Linked DNA regions of Homo sapiens: region 2 is linked to region 1. The links come from fine-mapping of genetic effects on gene expression. A gene starts in region 1. The other region holds a variant in brackets. All regions are shown on one strand. Distances are between the middles of the regions.

Region 1 (8,330 bases):
TAAAAAACAGAAGAGGTAAATGTAAGTAAAAAATAAAATATTATGCACAAGTGCATTCCTGAACCATATAAACAATTACATTAAACATTAACAGACTAAACACTACAATTAAAAGACAAAGATTGTTAGGATGAAGAAACAAGACCCAATTGTATGATATCTGCAAGAGATTCACTTTAAGTGTAAAGACAGGTTGAAATTAAATGGATGAAAGAAGATATACTATGCTAACAGTAAGTATAAGAAGGATGGAATTGCTACATTAATATTAGATAAAATATATTTCAAAACAAAATGTATTACCAGAGACAAACAGGAATTCTCTTATCTCTCATAATGATAGTCATAAGTGAAGTAAGTCTTATAATACAGCTTCAAGATACATGAAGCCAACACTACAAAAATTAAAGTGAAGAAAAGACAATTCCACAATCATACTTCTGTATTTTAACACCCCTCTCTCAGCAACTGAAAGAATAACTAGACCAAAAAAAAAAAAAAAAAAAAAATCAGCAAGGATACAGAAGACCTGAACAATACCATCAACCACCTTGACTTAACTGATATTTATCTAACCCCCAAATGGCAGAATACACATTCTTTTTCAGTGCACGTGGTATTTGTACTGGGAGAGACCACATTTGGGGTCATAAAACAAGAAGCAACAAATATGAAAGGAATGAAATAATACAGAGTATGTTCTCTGACCACAGTGGAATTAAATGACAATAACAATAAGATAACTAGGAAAACACCAACTATCTGGAAATTAATGCATGTCCAAATAATCATTGGGTCAAAGAAGAAGTCACAAGAAAAACTAGATAACATTTTGAACTAAATGTTAATGAAAATACAACATATTAAAATTTTGTGAGATGCAACTTAAGCTGCACTTTGAGAAAACGATATAATTTTACAATCTTAGCTCTTACATGTAGAAACCAAATGCTTTATTCAACCAATTTTGAATGTGCACAAATATGGGGTATATTTTTCACGAGCCTTTCTGAATAAACTAGAAGACAAGCTCCAGCCAACCAAGAGATGGGGAAATTTTTGGTAAAAGGACCAGAGATAAACAATTATTAATAACATACTTAACTGGAGATATAAGCCAGTAACAAAGCTGCGGATATGAGTTGTAAAGTGTTATATGTTCTGACAGTGTAGAAACAATATAACCAACAAAAACTGGGAAAGGAATGAGGAGGAAAAGGGAGAAAAGTAGAACAAGCTTGTTGACTGTCTCAGTAGCTGGCAGTCAAAGATAATACTTACAGCTGACATATCAAGTAGTAGATGTATATTCAATAGAACAAAGGTAAACATTAAAAAAAGCCACTGGTCAGGTGCAGTGGCTCATGCTTGTAATCTCAGCACTTTGGGAGGTCGACATGGATCACTTGATCTCAAGAATTTAAGACCAGTTTGGGCAACGTGGTGAAACCTTGTCTCAACAAAAATAAAAAAAAAACTAGCCAGGTATGGTGACATGTGCCTGTAGTCCTAGCTACTTGGAAAGCTGAGGTGGGAGGATTGCCTGAGCCTGGTACGTGGAGGTTGCAGTGAGCCGAGATCGTGCCACTGCACTCCAGCCTGGTGACAGAGTGAGATTCTGTCTCGAAAAAAAAAAAAAAAAAAAAAAAAAGACTACTACTGACTAAACTTGGCAAATGAAGGAGAGAATGGAGTGAAGAATAAAAAGGACATGGTAGGGTACCGATATCTATTGTCAAAAGGAAATAAGTGTATTATAAAGAAGGGAATGAAGTTGTTATCAAGGTAAATCACCAAAACAAAAATATGATCAGAAGTAGTATATATATATTTTTAAAGCAAAGAAACAGACCAGCAAGATAAAACTTCTAAAGCATGTGCACATGCTCACATTTGTAGAGGGGCTGTATCTGTGAGACTGCCCCTGGGGGAGGCCATTAATATGAACGCCATGCCCCAGCTGTCCCTCGCTTGGAGCCTCTTAAGGCAGGATTGGGAGGCTGCTCCCAGGATTAGCATCCCATCCATTCTCACCTTTCTGGCAGCTTTTCAAGATATCTGGTTCCTCAGCTCCCAGAAGATTCAGGACCCAAAGTTCCTTCCCCTGCTCCAGCTGGGAGATCAACTCCGGCTTAGGGACAGGGAATCCTGTTGAGGATGAGGACACTGGTGAGCTGGCATGGCCCACTGGGCCTTCCAGGCCAGGTGTGGAGAGATGGGCCCTGTGTGCACGTGTGTACGCCTGCACGTGTGTTGGTCAGGGGGCCCGTGGGCTGAGACTAAGTACTGAAGGAGAATCCACTCATCAGCTCTCCTGCCACTGGAGGGACACCAGTGGGGCCACTGGCAACAGGGAGTGAAGTCCCTAGAACTGGGGAGCAAGGCAGGCTTTTCCCATGGGAAATGTTCCTTCTGTAGAGATCAGACTGATACCCGGGGACAAGGGGCAGGACCCTCTTCTTTGGGATCCAAAGAGCCAAAGCAGCCTCCCAAGCTCCTCAGAGGCCCCCACTGCGAACCAGGCCAAGTGCAGAGAGCCTCACCCAGAGAGGCCACGTTCCCATAGTTCTCCAGCATCACATCCCGGTAGAGCGCCCGCTGCTGGGGGCCCAGCTGCCGCCCCTCCGCCTGAGAGAAGTACACGGCCACATCCTGGAAGGTCAGCGGCATCTCCTGCAACAAAACATCGCCGCTGCCCAGGCCATGCCCACGGGGCAGCAGCCTGCACTAAAAGGGCCCTGACCTGGTGGGGCCCCACTACCCAGGGCCCTGCTGTGGTCAGTATGAACTGTGTATCAGCAGGTCCCTGATGGGGCAGCTGAGAGCGCTGAGGACCAGCCAACTTCAGCTACACGGGGACCCAGCTGAGCTCAGAGCCCCTCTCCCTGCAGGAGGGCGAGTCTACCTCTCAGAACCCTTTCCTCACGGTTGCTATGAGCCCCTGGCTGGCCTTACCAGTTGCCGGGCTCACGGCTCCAGAGGAGAGTAGCTTCTGACTGGGATGGGGATGAAGATGAAGAGGTGGGCAGGAAGGAGGGTTAACTCACCTGGTGCCCTGGAAGCTGGAATGTGGCTGCCATTCTGTGTGCATGGGCTGCTGTGGTTTCCAAGAGAAGACAGGAGACTGCCCTGGCCTGAAGTCTCCCCGAACTTACCTTCAGTGGGGAGAACTCAGGCTCAGCCCCATTCAACCAGGGGTGTGGAAGGATGGCCAGGAGGCAGAAGCTGATTGCTGCTGTGGCCTCCTGGGTCGCGGGAGGCAGGTCACTATGCAGCACGGGCCGACGTGCCCTACTGCTCAGTGACTCCTGAAATCCCAGAACGGCCAGAGCCAGAGCCCGGGGGGATCCAGGGACGCCCGGCTAAGGGGTGAAAGCTGGCAGTTCCCGTGGTCCAGACCTGCTGAAGGCCCTGGAAATGGGGTGCAGGGCCGTTCTACCTGCCTGGCCAACCTGGGGCAAAGAGCCACGTGAGGGTGCAGCCTCACCAAGGCTGAGGACGTGAGAAGGAGGCCGCGGGGATGCTGCCGAAGGCCCCAGGCTCCGGGGAGAGGCCGGAAGCCAGCTGTGGTCCTCAGTCCAGCCTTCTAGGGCCGCGCCGCGGTCGCCTCCTCCCGGCCTCTGCAGCCCGTCGGTGGCTCCCGCGGCACCCAGAACAGGCTCCTCCTGGACTGGCCGCCGCCTCCCCGCGCCCTCCCCGCGCCCTCCCCGCCTGCCTGCCCGCTTGGCGCTCCTTCCTGGTCCGACACTGCCCCACCTGTTTGCTCGACCCGGGGAAGCCACCGAGGAAGCGCCGAGGAGCTGCGCAGTCGCACCGAGCCCGGAACGGACCCTCCCACAGAACCGGGTCCAGAGCCGGGGAGGGGGCGGGCTAGGATGAAGAGGGCGGGCCGGGCCGAGCTGCGCACACGCAGGCTTCCCCGCCCCCTGCGGGGCCTCAGTACGCCTCCGAGAACGCCGGGAACCGGAAGCCAGCCGCGGTTCCGCCCGGATTCTTCCGGGGCCGCTCTGGGATGACTGGAGGCCTGCGCCGTCTATGGTCGGGGAGGGGGAGAGCCCACGGCAGCTGAGCGGAGGGTCTGGCGCGGTGACGCTGCGCATCCGGGCCGCGCCGCGCTCGCCCCGACCCTAAACCCTCACCTGAACCCTAACCCCGCTGGGCTCCCGGCTCCCCCGTCGGTCACCATACATCGTGTGTCCCGATTCACCATAACCACCAGAAAGTCGCTTATGAAGATGTTACAATTATCGGGGCTCAGAACACAACGCCCCAAAATGAAGGCCTGGGAGGCAGTTTCCCTCTGACCTTCCCAGGCCTCCAGTCTCAGTTCTTTTCTCCCGCGAGGCTCCTCACAGAGTGAATCCCTTTTACCCAAGGCGAGTCCCAGAGGCCAGACCCCCAAAGCCAGCCACAAAACCTAAAAACACGACTCTGATGTTCCCCCCGCTTTTCTGTGTGAAAACTGGCGGTAAAGGCCGGGCGTGGTGGCGGGCGTCTGTAGTCCCAGCTACTCCGGAGGCTGAGGCGGGAGAATCGCTTGAACCCGGGAGGCGGAGGTTGCAGTGAGCCGAGATCGCGCCACTGCACTCCAGCCTGGGTGACAGAGCGAGACTCCATCTCAAAAATAAATAATAAATAAATAAATAATCCATTTATTTGCCTTTTCTCCAAAAATCTGCCTTTTATGAGTTGGCTTTCAGTGAACCTTCAGAGGGCAAAGAGGAACTTTCCCTTTGGCCCCTACACAATAAAGCATGGTTGAAAAAATAGCACTTGATAAAGGTGAGGAGACCAGCTTAGGAGCAGGGGGAGAAGGAAAGGAAAGCCAAGCCATCTTGTCACCCAGAATATAGTGTAGGCCCTGTACACTGTGTTAGAATCAAGGCAGAAATTTTATATCTGAACTTGAGACGATCAACGAGGATGGAGAATGTCTAGAAGTCTAAAGCACCATGCAAAGTCACACATGATTAAGAAGATGCCTTACATTATTAATATCAGTGCTGGGGAGATTGTGGAGAATTACGCACTGCTATGCTTGAGGAAGCGTGTTTAGTACAATGTTGAAAATGAATTAAGCTGTACATAAAGAGCCTTAAACACTTCAATTAATCTAGGAATCTATCCTATGGAAATAACAAAAATGACAAAGAGAAGGGTGCCCATTCCAGAGTTTGTTGTGTGTGTGGTTTTTTTTAAATAATGGGGAGAATTTGGAAAATAGCTAGTTATTCATAGAAGGGGAAATGGAAGATAATTATGCTTTTTGCAGCACAGAAATAGATAAATCTATTGTCTTCTGTACACTCAGTTGAACATTATGCAGCCATTATGTGTGGTATTTGAAAAAAAAGTATTGGCAGAGGGTAATGCTTATGAAATAGAATGTGAAAAATAGAATACAAAATTATATTTATGATATGATCTCAATTGTATATATGGGTGTTTAAGTTCACAAACTTAAGGTTTCCAGATATAAGGACCTAGGTTGGTTTGTTCACTGCTCAGCCACCAGCCTGGAACATAGTAAGTACTCTATAAATACTTGGGAAGTGCTTGAAAAACGTATATAAAAAGCTGAAAATAAATACATCATTACTAGTTGTAAGATTGCAGAATATTTGATTTCCTCTTTTTCTTTTTCACATCTCCTACAGGGGGCGTGTAATCACTCTGTGACTGGTGGCTGCAGGCTCTCCTAATGGATATTTCCTATTTACAGGGCTACCAACTGCCAAGCATCCAAGCAGTCCCTAGGCAGCAATCCAGCAGCTGACAGGGTTACCGGCGTCAACTGCCACAGATGCTAGGCTGGTTTGCCATATTTACATGGATTTGATCAGCAATGAGCACAAAAGATAGAGATTGTTTCTTTCTTTCTTTTTTTTGAGGTGGAGTTTTACTCTTGTTGCCCACGCTGGAGCGCAATGGTGAGATCTTGGCTCACTGCAACCTCCACCTCCCAGGTACAAGTGATTCTCCTGTCTCAGCTTCACAAGTAGCTCGGATTACAGGCATGCAGGACCATGTCCAGCTAATTTTTTTGTATTTCGTAGAGACGGGGTTTCACCATATTAGTCAGGCTGGTGGCAAACTCCTGACCTCAAGTGATCCACCTGCGTCGGCCTCCCAAAGTGCTAGGATTACAGGTGTGTGCCACTGTGCCCAGCCTAGATTGTTTATTTCTTACTCAAACAGCTACAGCATGATCAGCAGCCTGTGTCCCTAGACACACAAGATGACAGCAAACCATAGGGGCCAGATGACAGAAAGCACAGATGGTGGCCACGGTGCTGCTGAGGCGCCAGCTCCACACTGCAGCCAGGCAGTGGTGTGTCCGCAGCTGTACCCCAAGGAGGGGCAAAGGGAGCATCCCAGACGCAGCCAACCAGGGGCCCAGGGGCGCTGCTGTCACTGTCGTTTCTTACAAGGTTGCTTGTCTCCCTTAGTTTCAGGAGGAACCTCCAAGCATTCTGCCAAACTCAGTTCACACGGTGATGGACCTTGCCACACAGCTATGTGAAGATGTCCAAGGTCCTCAGGGCCCAGAACAGAGCTGTTCCCTACTCCACTGACCTCCCTGTTTCTAAAACCAGTGGGCTTTTTTTTTCCTTTGAGACAAGGTCTCTCTCTGTTACCCAGGCTGGAGTGCAGTAGCACAATCTCAGCTCACTGCAACCTTCACCTCCCCGGGCTCAAGCAATCCTCCCACCTCAGCCTTATGAGTAGTTGGGATCACAGATGCGTGCCACCACATCGGGCTAATTTTTTGTATTTTTTTGGTAGAGACAGGGTCTTGCTCTGTTGCCCAGGCTGGTCTCAAACTCCTGACCTCAAGTAATCCACCTGCTTTGGCCTCCCAAAGTGCTGGGATTACAGGTGTGAGCCATAGTGCCTGGCCACCAGTGGGCATTTTTTAGTTTTCCTTTACTTGACCTCTCAGCAATATTTGACACCATGAACTGTCTGTCCTTCTTGGAACACTTGATTTCCTTATCATCAATAATACCACCCTTCCTTCATTTTCTGCCAACCACTCTCAATCTCCTTTGCTACTTTCTCCTCTACTCAGTGTCTGCCCTGCGCATTCTCCTTACTTTATTCTACATTTTCCTCTAAGAGAGCTTACCTTGTCTCATTTCTTCAACTGCTACTTACATGTAAATTACCCCACTTAAAAAAATTCCATCTCAGACCTTTCTTCTGTGTTCAAACCTTTAGAAATACATACTCAGCATATTTACCCATTGGCTGGGCACGGTGGCTCGCGCCTATAATCCCAGCACTTTGGGAGGCCGAGGTGAGCGGATCAACTGAGGTCAGGAGTTTGAGACTAGCCTGGCCAACGTGGTGAAACTCCATCTCTACTAAAACTACAAAAAATTAGCCGGGTGTGGTGGTGCACGCTTGTAATCCCAGCTACTCGGGAGGCTGAGGCAGGAGAATCGCTTGAACCTGGGAGGTGGAGGTTGCAGTGAGCCGAGATCATACCATTGCACTCCAGCCTGGGCGACAGAGCGAGACTCCATGAAGAACAACCACAACAACAACAACAAAAATTTAAGCGGGCCTAACACCCACGGCAAGCAGTGCCGGAGAGGGCAATCAGACTGGGGGCCGGGGCAGGCCCTTGTTCTCACTCCTCACATTCATGACAAATATACCTGTGTCTTGGGAAATTCTGGGGAGGAAAATTCAGACCCTTCCTTCCACCGTACCCTCTCAGGAGGAGTGGTGGGAAGAGAGTGACTTCATTGGGAATCCTTAACCTGGGGGACGGATGGCAATCCGTCTGTATCTTCCTCCAGCTGCCTGAGGTACATTCAGTACTTGCATCACCAGTTTCCACGTACAAAAACACCAGAATTCAGGCAGCCTGGCCAACATAGTGAGAACCCATTTCTAAAAATAAAATAAATAAAATAATAATAAAGCCGATTAGGGACCATGATTTTGCATCTGCAGCCACAAGCGCCTGCTAACTGTCATGAGAAACTGACCCTCCCAGTCATATGTAGAGGCCTCTGCCATGGCAAAGAGCAGACCCCAGTGCATTCCGTCTGATCCCAGGAAGATTGGAAGGACAAAGAAGCTGGAGGGGCGGGAGCTACCTTGTTGCGGGAAGTCAGGGACCCCAAACGGAGGGACCGGCGGAAGCCATGGCAGAAGAACGTGGATTGTGAAGATTTTATGGACATTTATTAGTTCCCCAAATTAATACTTTTATAATTTCTTATGCCTGTCTTTACTGCAATCTCTAAACATAAATTGTAAACATTTCATGGACACTTATCACTTCCCCAATCAGTACCCTTGCGATTTCCTATGCC
Region 2 (8,330 bases), 110 kb after region 1:
CACTTTGGTAGGAGAGGGGAGGAGGAGGGGTCTGTGATCCAGACCCAGTCCCCCCTGGTTGTAGGGACAGGGAGGAGTGTTTTGAGGATGGACTTTCAGGCGGCGGCAAGTAAGCGTTAGTGTACTGTCTATTAGATGGTGAGTGAGGTGTAATGCTGGCCAAGTACCCCATGCAGAAGGGCGGGGAGATACAGGGAGATTTTGGAGGATAAAGGGGCATCCATACATATGTTCAAATGGGCTTATGCTGAGGGGCTTGTGAGGAATGGCTTATAAATGCATGAGGGCCATGGGGAGTAGTAAAGTTTAGGCCATTTTAACCTCTAGGGAGAGTTTGGATAATTGTTGTTTTAGAAGGGCATTGGACCATTCAATCTTACCTGAAGATGAGGGTCAATAAGGAATATGGAAGGCCCATTTAATGTTTAGAGCCTTTGCCAGCTGTTGGCTAACCTGTGAAACATATGTTGGCCCGTTGTCTGACTGGATGAAAGAGGGGAGTCCAAACCGGGGGATAATATGTGTGAGGAGAATAGAAGCAACAGTGTGGCTTTTCAGTAGTAGTAGTAGTGGTGGTAGGAAACCCCTCTATCCATCCAGTGTATCTACTATTGTCAGAAGGTTCTGGACTCATTTTACAGGGGGCATGCAGGTGAAGGCGATTTCCCAGTCCTGCCCTGGCAGGTGTCCTCAGGCCTGGTGTGTGGGGAAAGGGGGTGATTTGATAGCTTTCTGAGGGGAAGTCTGAGTGCAAAGGGAACATGCCTTAGTAATATCTTTGAGATTGGCAGCCATGGTGGGAGAATGTATATGTTTTTAAGAGCTGAAGTAGGGGGAGGCAACCAGCATGGAAATGGTTGTGCACATATAAAAGTACAGAAGGTTTTTTTTTTTGAGACAGAGTCTTGCTCTGTCACCCAGGCTGGAGTGCAGTGGCACGATCTCGGCTCAATGCATCCTCTCCATCCTGGGTTCAAGCAGTTCTCTGCCTCAGCCTCCTGAGTAGCTGGGATTACAGGCGCCTGCCACCATGTCCGGCTAATTTTTGTATTTTTAGTAGACATGGGGTTTCACCATGTTGGCCAGGCTGGTTTTGAACTCCTGACCTCAGGTGATCCTCCCGCCTCAGCCTCCCAAAATGCTGGGATTACAGGCGTGAGCCACCATGCCCGGCCCAGAAGGTTTTTAAAATTTGGCCAAGACAATTTTAGCACTGAGGTAGAACCATTTTTTCCTGAATGGCACCAGCCAGGGCAAGTGAGGTTTGTTCCTCCTGGGTACATACAGGGTATATGCTGGGAAAACTGGGCAATAATGATGGGGTTTAAGGGCTGCCTGCCGGGCTGCCTAATTTGCTAAAAGATTTCCCTTGGTTATGGCATTTGTAGCCTTTTGGTGTCCCTTACAATGGATAATGGTGGCCTGTAGTGGTAGTTTAGCTGCCTCCACCAGCTTGTGTATGAGTTTGCCATTTACTATGGGGGTTCTTTTTAGCTAGAAATCCCCTTTCCTGCCAGATTAAGGTGTGAGAATGTAGGATGTGGTATGCATATTTGGTATTGGTGTAAATGTTTTTTTTTCCTGTAATGGAGTCTCACTCTGTCACCCAGGCTGGAGTAAGTGGCACAATCTTGGCTCACTGCAACCCCCGCCTCCTGGGTTCAAGCAATTCTCCTGCCTCAGCCTCCAGAGTAGCTGTGACTACAGGTGCCCGCCACCATGCCCAGCTAATTTTTGTATTTTTAGTAGAGATGGGGTTTCACCGTGTTGGCCAGGATGGTCTCGATCTCCCGACCTCGTGATCCGCCCGCCTCGGCCTCCCAAAGTGCTGGGATTACAGGCGTGAGCCACCACGCCGGGCCAGGAATCAGTGTAAAAGTTAACCCTCTTTCCCTTTGTTAGGGTGAGGGCCCTGGTTAGGGCAACCAACTCTATCTGTTGAGAGGTAGTTCTGCCTGTTGCGAGGTAGTATGGGGTGGGAGAGCATTAGATTCTGAGAGTTTATTTTGGCAATGATGTTGTAACCACATGGTGGACATGGCTCCTTTAAAGAGCTTCCGTTAATGAACCATGTAGTTGTTCCCTGCAAAGGGGCTTCTGAAATGTGTTGGAAGGGGGAGGAAAGGGAGTCTAAGAGGTCCAGGCAGGAGTGAGACAGCTCAGAGTCAGAGGTGTTTACAGGGAGGAGAGTGGGAGGGTTGAGAGCTTTACCTTTCTGGAAGGTGATTAGAAGGTTTCCTATGAATAAGGTGTGTACCTGGTGTAAGCAGGATGATGGGAGGGATAGAAGAGATTGATGGCTCATGAGGTCCTGTAGGTTATGGGAAGATGAAATAGTAATGTGTTGGTAGAGAGTGAGTTTCTGTGCCTCCGAGGCCAGCAATGTGGCCGCACCCAAGATTTTTAGGCAGGGTGGCCAGCCTTGGACGACAGTCTGGTTGTTTTGAGGGGTATGCAATGGCTTGTGTTTGGCAGAGCAGTTCAAGAGCAAGGCCTTGTCAGAATGTACATGCAGAGTAAAGGGCTTGGTGGGGTTGGGCAGTCCCAGTTCTGGGGCCATTAAAAGGGTATTTTTTAGTTTTTTTTAAAGTGTGAATTGATGGGACGAGCCGGGTTCAGAGGCTCTAGGCTGGGCCCAAGTGAGGACATGTAGAGCAGCTTGGCCAGCAAACAGAAGTTGGGAATCCACAGCCGGAAGTATCCCATGAGGCCCAAGAAGGACAGGAGGTCCTTCTTTGTGTGGGGAAGGGGCAATGTCTTGAATTAGCTCCTTTTGTTGGGTTAGGATGGCCTGAGAATTAGGGGTTAGAACTCAGGTGAGTGACCTGGGTTTGGGCTACATGAGTCTTTGTTGGTGAGACCCAATATCTTTACCTATGGAGGAAGTTTAAAAGCTGAGTGGTGCGTTGGATGGACAGGTTAAGGGAGGGGCTACAGAAAAGTAGGTCATTGACTTATTGAGGGAGGGTGCTAGGAGCAATGGGAAGTTCAGCTAGGTCCTTGGTGACGGCCTGTCCGAATAGGTGGGGGCTGTCCCAGAACCCCTGTGGGAGTATGGTCCATGTTAGTTGGGTGGACATGTGGGTATTAGGATCTGACCAAGAGAAAGCAAAAATACTTTGGGAAGCCGAATTTAAGGAAATAGTGAAAAAGGTGTCCTTTAAATCCAGTACAGGGAAGTGTGTGGTAGAAGAGGGACTATGGGAGAGTGGAGTATGTGGGATGAGAGTGGAGTGTTGGATGAATTGGTATTACCACCTGGTTAACAACTCAGAGATCCTGGACCAAGTGGTAGGATCTTGAGAATATTAGCTTGTAAAAGTTTACAGATAATAGGTTTGAGGCCCCTGAGGCTGCCTGGGTTAGGGGATATTGAGACTGATGATGGAAAATGGAGTGGTTTTGGAGGGTTATTTTAACTGGGATGTGATGTGTGGCTATTGTGGGTTTAAAAATGTTCCAAATTTCAGAATTAACAGAAGGTAACAGGGTGGATAACGAGGATGAGGGGGAGAGGGAAGCATCTGGTGGCAGAATAAAATAAAAGGAGCGGAATTGCAGGAGGCAGATTGTATGGAGGCCTGGGATTTACTTAGTATGTCCTGCCCCAAGATAGGGGCAGGGCACCGAGGGATAACCAGGAAGGAGTGGGTGAATGGGGTGTTGAATAGGTTGCATAATAGAGGACCAGTCTGTTTGTGCCTAGAGGGGATTCCATCAACTCCCACAATACAGATAGAAGAACTGAGGAGGGGTCCAGAATATTCTAATAAAACTGAGTAACTAGTCCCTGTATCCAATAGGAAAGACATGGGCTTACCAGAGACTGACCCTGGGTTCCGAGGTGGTGATGGCAGTTGGGGTGGTAGGCCCCTGGCCCCATCAGTCTTCAGTTAGAGGTGGTGAAGCGGGATGAAGAGTTTTGCTGAGCACAGTCCCACTTCCAATGTTCCTTGATGCCACAGATGGGGCAAAGTTTTGAGAGTAGGCCTTTGCCCAGTGACTCTGTTGGCTGCACTTAAAACAGGCTTCTGGTAGAGTTTGCTGCAAGGTTGAGGATTTCTGTACATGTTGGGAACCCTGTTGAATGGCAGCTGCCAGCATCTGGCATTTAGCCTGGTCTCTTTTTAGCTTTTGGACTTTTAGTTTTTCCTCTCTATTGTTAAAGACCTTAAAGGCCACTTTGATTAAGTCTTTTTGGGAGGTTTGAGGGCTATTCTCCAGTTTTTTAAGTTTCATTAGAATGTCTGGGGCTGACTGGAAAATGAAGTGTAAATGGAGGTAGATTCTTCCCTTATTGGCATTAGGGTTCAACGTGGCATATTTAGTTATGGCCTTTGAAAGGCAGGAGAAGAAAAGAGCAGGAACAGCTTTATTTATTTATTTTTGAGATGGAGTTTCACTCTTGTTGCCCAGGCTGGAGTGCAATGGCGTGATCTCGACTCACCACAACCTCTGCCTCCTGAGTTCAAGTGATTCTCCTGCCTTAGCCTCCCGGGTAGCTGAGACTCGGACTGGCTCTCCTTGCTCCACAAGCTTGCAGACAGCCTATTGTGGGACCTTATGATTGTGTAAGTTAATACTTATTCCCCTTTATACAGGCATGCACCACCACGCCTAATTTTTTTTTTTTTTTTTTTTTTAGTACAGACGGAGTTTCTCCATGTTGGTCAGGCTGGTCTCGAACTCCTGACCTCAGGTGATCTGCCTGCCTTGGCCTCCCGAAGTGCTGGGATTACAGATGTGAGCCACCATGCCTGGCCAGGAATGGCTTTATTTATGCCAGCTAGGAGGCATATCATATGGCCTTATTTCTATCTGTCTGCAGAAGTTGCCTGATAA[T/A]CCCAACTGGGGTCAGTTCTGGGGACAGTTAGGGTCCATATTGGGTTATGGGCAGCATCTTGTCTATGGGAGGGTGTCTACATGGGCCTGGGCAGCTATCCAGATGCATTCCCTGTCCTCAGGGGTGAGGGTGCAGGAGAGGATGACATATATGACATGCCAGGTAAGGTCATAAAATTGAGTGACATACAGAAATTCCTTGAGGAAGGAGGTGGGATCTGTGCAAAACGAGCTGAATCTCTTTTTTTTTTTGAGACAGAGTCTCGCTCTGTCGCCCAGGCTGGAGTACAGTGGCGTGATCTTGGCTCACTGCAAGCTCCACCTCCTGGGTTCACACCATTCTCCTGCCTCAGCCTCCCAAGTAGCTGGGACTACAGGCGTCTGCCACCACGCCCAGCTAATTTTTTGTATTTTTAGTAGAGACAGGGTTTCACTATGTTAGCCAGGATGGTCTCAATATCATGACCTCGTTATCAGCCTGCCTCAGCCTCCCAAATTGCTGGGATTACAGGTGTGAGCCACCACGCCCGGCCGCTGAGTCTCTTTTTAAGCTGAGAGAGGTCGACTAGGGAAAAGGGAACATGAACTCAGATTATGCCTTTAGTCCCTGTGACCTCCTGGAAAGGGAGAACTTAGGAGGACCTTTGGCTGTGTGCCTGGTTTTTGGTGGAAGGGGGCTGGGCACGTGCCTAGTTTGTTGGCTAGGTTGAAATTAGAGGAGAAAGGTTTGTCTGGAGGAGGAGGCGTTTTTGTGGGTTTTTTGTTGAGGAGGAAGATTTGAAAAGGTGAACGGGATTGGCAGAGAGAGAGTGAGCCAGGAGCACAGATAAGCAAAGCACCTCAGATCATTTACGATTGCACTGGAGGAAGTCTTTTAGATTATGTCAGATGTGGAAATTGAATGTTTTGGTTTTTGGCTATTGACTATTATTGTCTAGTTTACATTGGGGCTGGGCAACATTACAGAGGAAAGTAAGGTGTTCAGTTTTTTGTTTTTGTTTTTGTTTTTGTTTGAGACAGAGTCTCACTCTGTCACCCAGACTGGAATGCAGTGGAACGATCTTGGCTCACTGCAACCTCTGCCTCCCCGGTTCAAGCAATTCTCCTGCCTCAGCCTCCTGGGTAGCTGGGATTACAGGCACCTGCCACCACACCCGGCTAATTTTTGTATTTTTAGTAGAGACAGGGTTTCACCATATTGGCCAGGCTGGTCTCGAACTCCTGATCTTGTGATCTGCCCACCTTGGCCTCCCAAAGTGCTGAGATTACAGGCATGAACTATCACACTTGGCCAGCAAGGCGTTCAGTTTTAATGGAGTCTGCCAAGCCCTGGGCTTGGAGGTTCTGGATGGAAACATCCAAGAGTGGTGTCTTGAGGTTTTGAGGAGTGTTGCCCCATACTGCTGGCCAGAGGGTGAGAAATTTAGAGGATGGAAGTACCCCAGAGGGAAGTGAATACCCCGGAGGGGAGTGAGTACCCCGATTCCTCCTGGGAGAAGGGACCTAGGAGAGCCAGGGCGTCCCTACAGCTCTTTGCAGACCCCCAGAGGCTGCAGTGGCCAAAGTGGTGAGCATTCTGACGGCGTCCCCTGAGAGGGTAGGCCACGGTCACCTGGTGACCAGGGAGACCTCTCACCTGGTACTGGAATTTTCTGGTGAACCCCCAGAAATATGAGAGGAATCTGGAGAGGAAAAAAAGAGAGACTCACCCACTAATTGGAGACGGGTGTTGGATGTGATGTCCAGCAATGGGATTGATACTTGCTGGAGCTGCCTGGAAAGGGGAAGGAAGGAAAAAGAGGATGGAGAGTTTGATCAGGATCTGGAAGTCAGCCCAGGACCAGAGAAGAAGAGAGAATAAAGGAACGGAGCTGGGAATAGGGAGTCCATTCAGGATCTGGAAGCAGGCCTGGGTCTGGTTTTTGCTGCTTGCTGCTTTCCAGGTTGCTAGAAAACATTTACCCATTTAGAACCCAATTCCTATCCTGGGTTTTGGCACTAAAATGTTAGGTTTTGAAGGGAGGGCAAGGGCTAAAGAAACACACACACACACACACACACACACAGAGAGAGAGAGAGGAGAGAGAGGGGGGAGACAGACAGAGAGAGAGAGAGAGATTGTTGCTCAACAGCAACAACACAGGTATATTGCAAAAACCTGTGGAGATGGGGGACGAGCTTAACTCCAGAGCCCATAGCTGCTTATAGGCTGGGGAAATTTATAGGTGTGATGGTTAATACTGGAGAAATGTGAAAAGGCCAGACTGGCCTACCCTCCCAGCCTACATCTTTCTCCCATGCCGGATGCTTCCTGCCCTCCAACATCTGACTCCAAGTTCTTCAGTTTTGAGACTTGGACTGGCTCTCCTTGCTCCTGAAGCTTGCAGACAGCCTATAGTGGGACCTCGTGATTGTGTAATTTAATACTTCCCTTTTTATATATATTCCATTAGTTCTATCCCTCTAGAGAACTCTGACTAATACAGATTTTTGTACCAGGAGTGGTTCTGGAGGAAGAGGATATTAAGGATGGAGTTCTGTCATTGGTTTTGGGGTTTCTGGATTTGGCTGGTTAATATGATTAGACCCCAAAATGTTAAGGACTCTACTTCTAATAGTATGGAGAACACTGATAGTCCTTGGCATAAACTGTTTAGAGAGTTATGCAAAATAAATGCATTTGACACTCCTGATTCACCATTCATGAGAGGCAAGGAGTTTAGTGACCCTATACATAATATCTTTGACTATATGTGGAGAACCAAGGAACATGATGAAGCTGGTTGGTTGCTCCTAAGTTCAGTGGACAAAGTGATGAAAGAAAATGATGGCTGGGCTGGGCACAGTGGCTCACGTCTGTAATCCCAGCACTTTGGGAGGCTGAGGTGGGAGGATCATGAGGTCAGGAGATCAAGACCATCCTGGCTAACACAGTGAAACCCCATCTCTACTAAAAATACAAAAAATTAGCCAGGCGTGGTGGCAGGCGCCTGTAGTCCCAGCTACTCGGAAGGCTGAGGCAGGAGAATGGCATGAACCCAGGAGGTGGAGCTTGCAGTGAGCTGAGTTCGCACCACTGCACTCCAGCCTGGGTGACAGAGCGAGACTCCGCCTCAAAAAAAAAAAAAAACAAAAAAAAAAAGAAAGAAAACGATGGCTGGGCATGATGGCTCATGCCTGTAATTCCAGCACTTTGGTAGTGTGGGCGGCAAGCCACCCAGGTGCTGAGGCAAGAGACCGAGGGCACGAGCTGTTCCAGTATAATAAAATATATAAAACAACAAGTTATACTAGATCAGATCACAGACATGATTATATATGAATATCATTAATCATTAGTTTGTAGCAATTACTCTTTATTCCAATATTATAATAATCCTCACTCTATAATCATAACCTAGGAAAAACCAGGCCATACAGATATAGGAGCTGAGGGGACATAGTGAGAAGTGACCAGAAGACATGAGTGTGAGCCTTCTGTTATGCCC

The links. PIP is the estimated chance that this variant, and not a neighbour inherited with it, causes the effect.
Region 2: its variant is fine-mapped to the expression of ZNF251 in whole blood (INTERVAL, PIP 0.91).

The regions. Positions count from the first base shown.
Region 1 is chr8:144,751,649-144,759,978 of GRCh38, forward strand. ZNF251 (zinc finger protein 251) reads right to left here and starts at 3,883. Exons shown (of 5, transcript NM_138367.2): 1 at 3,757-3,883; 2 at 3,048-3,155; 3 at 2,544-2,673; 4 at 2,035-2,148. The coding sequence starts at 3,080. LOC107986986 (a long non-coding RNA gene) reads left to right here. Exons shown (of 3, transcript XR_001746149.3): 3 at 5,658-8,330.
Region 2 is chr8:144,861,508-144,869,837 of GRCh38, forward strand. No RefSeq gene overlaps it. Among named protein-coding and RNA genes, the nearest start is that of COMMD5, 13 kb to the left of the region's middle. The variant T/A (reference allele first, on the strand shown) is at 4,843.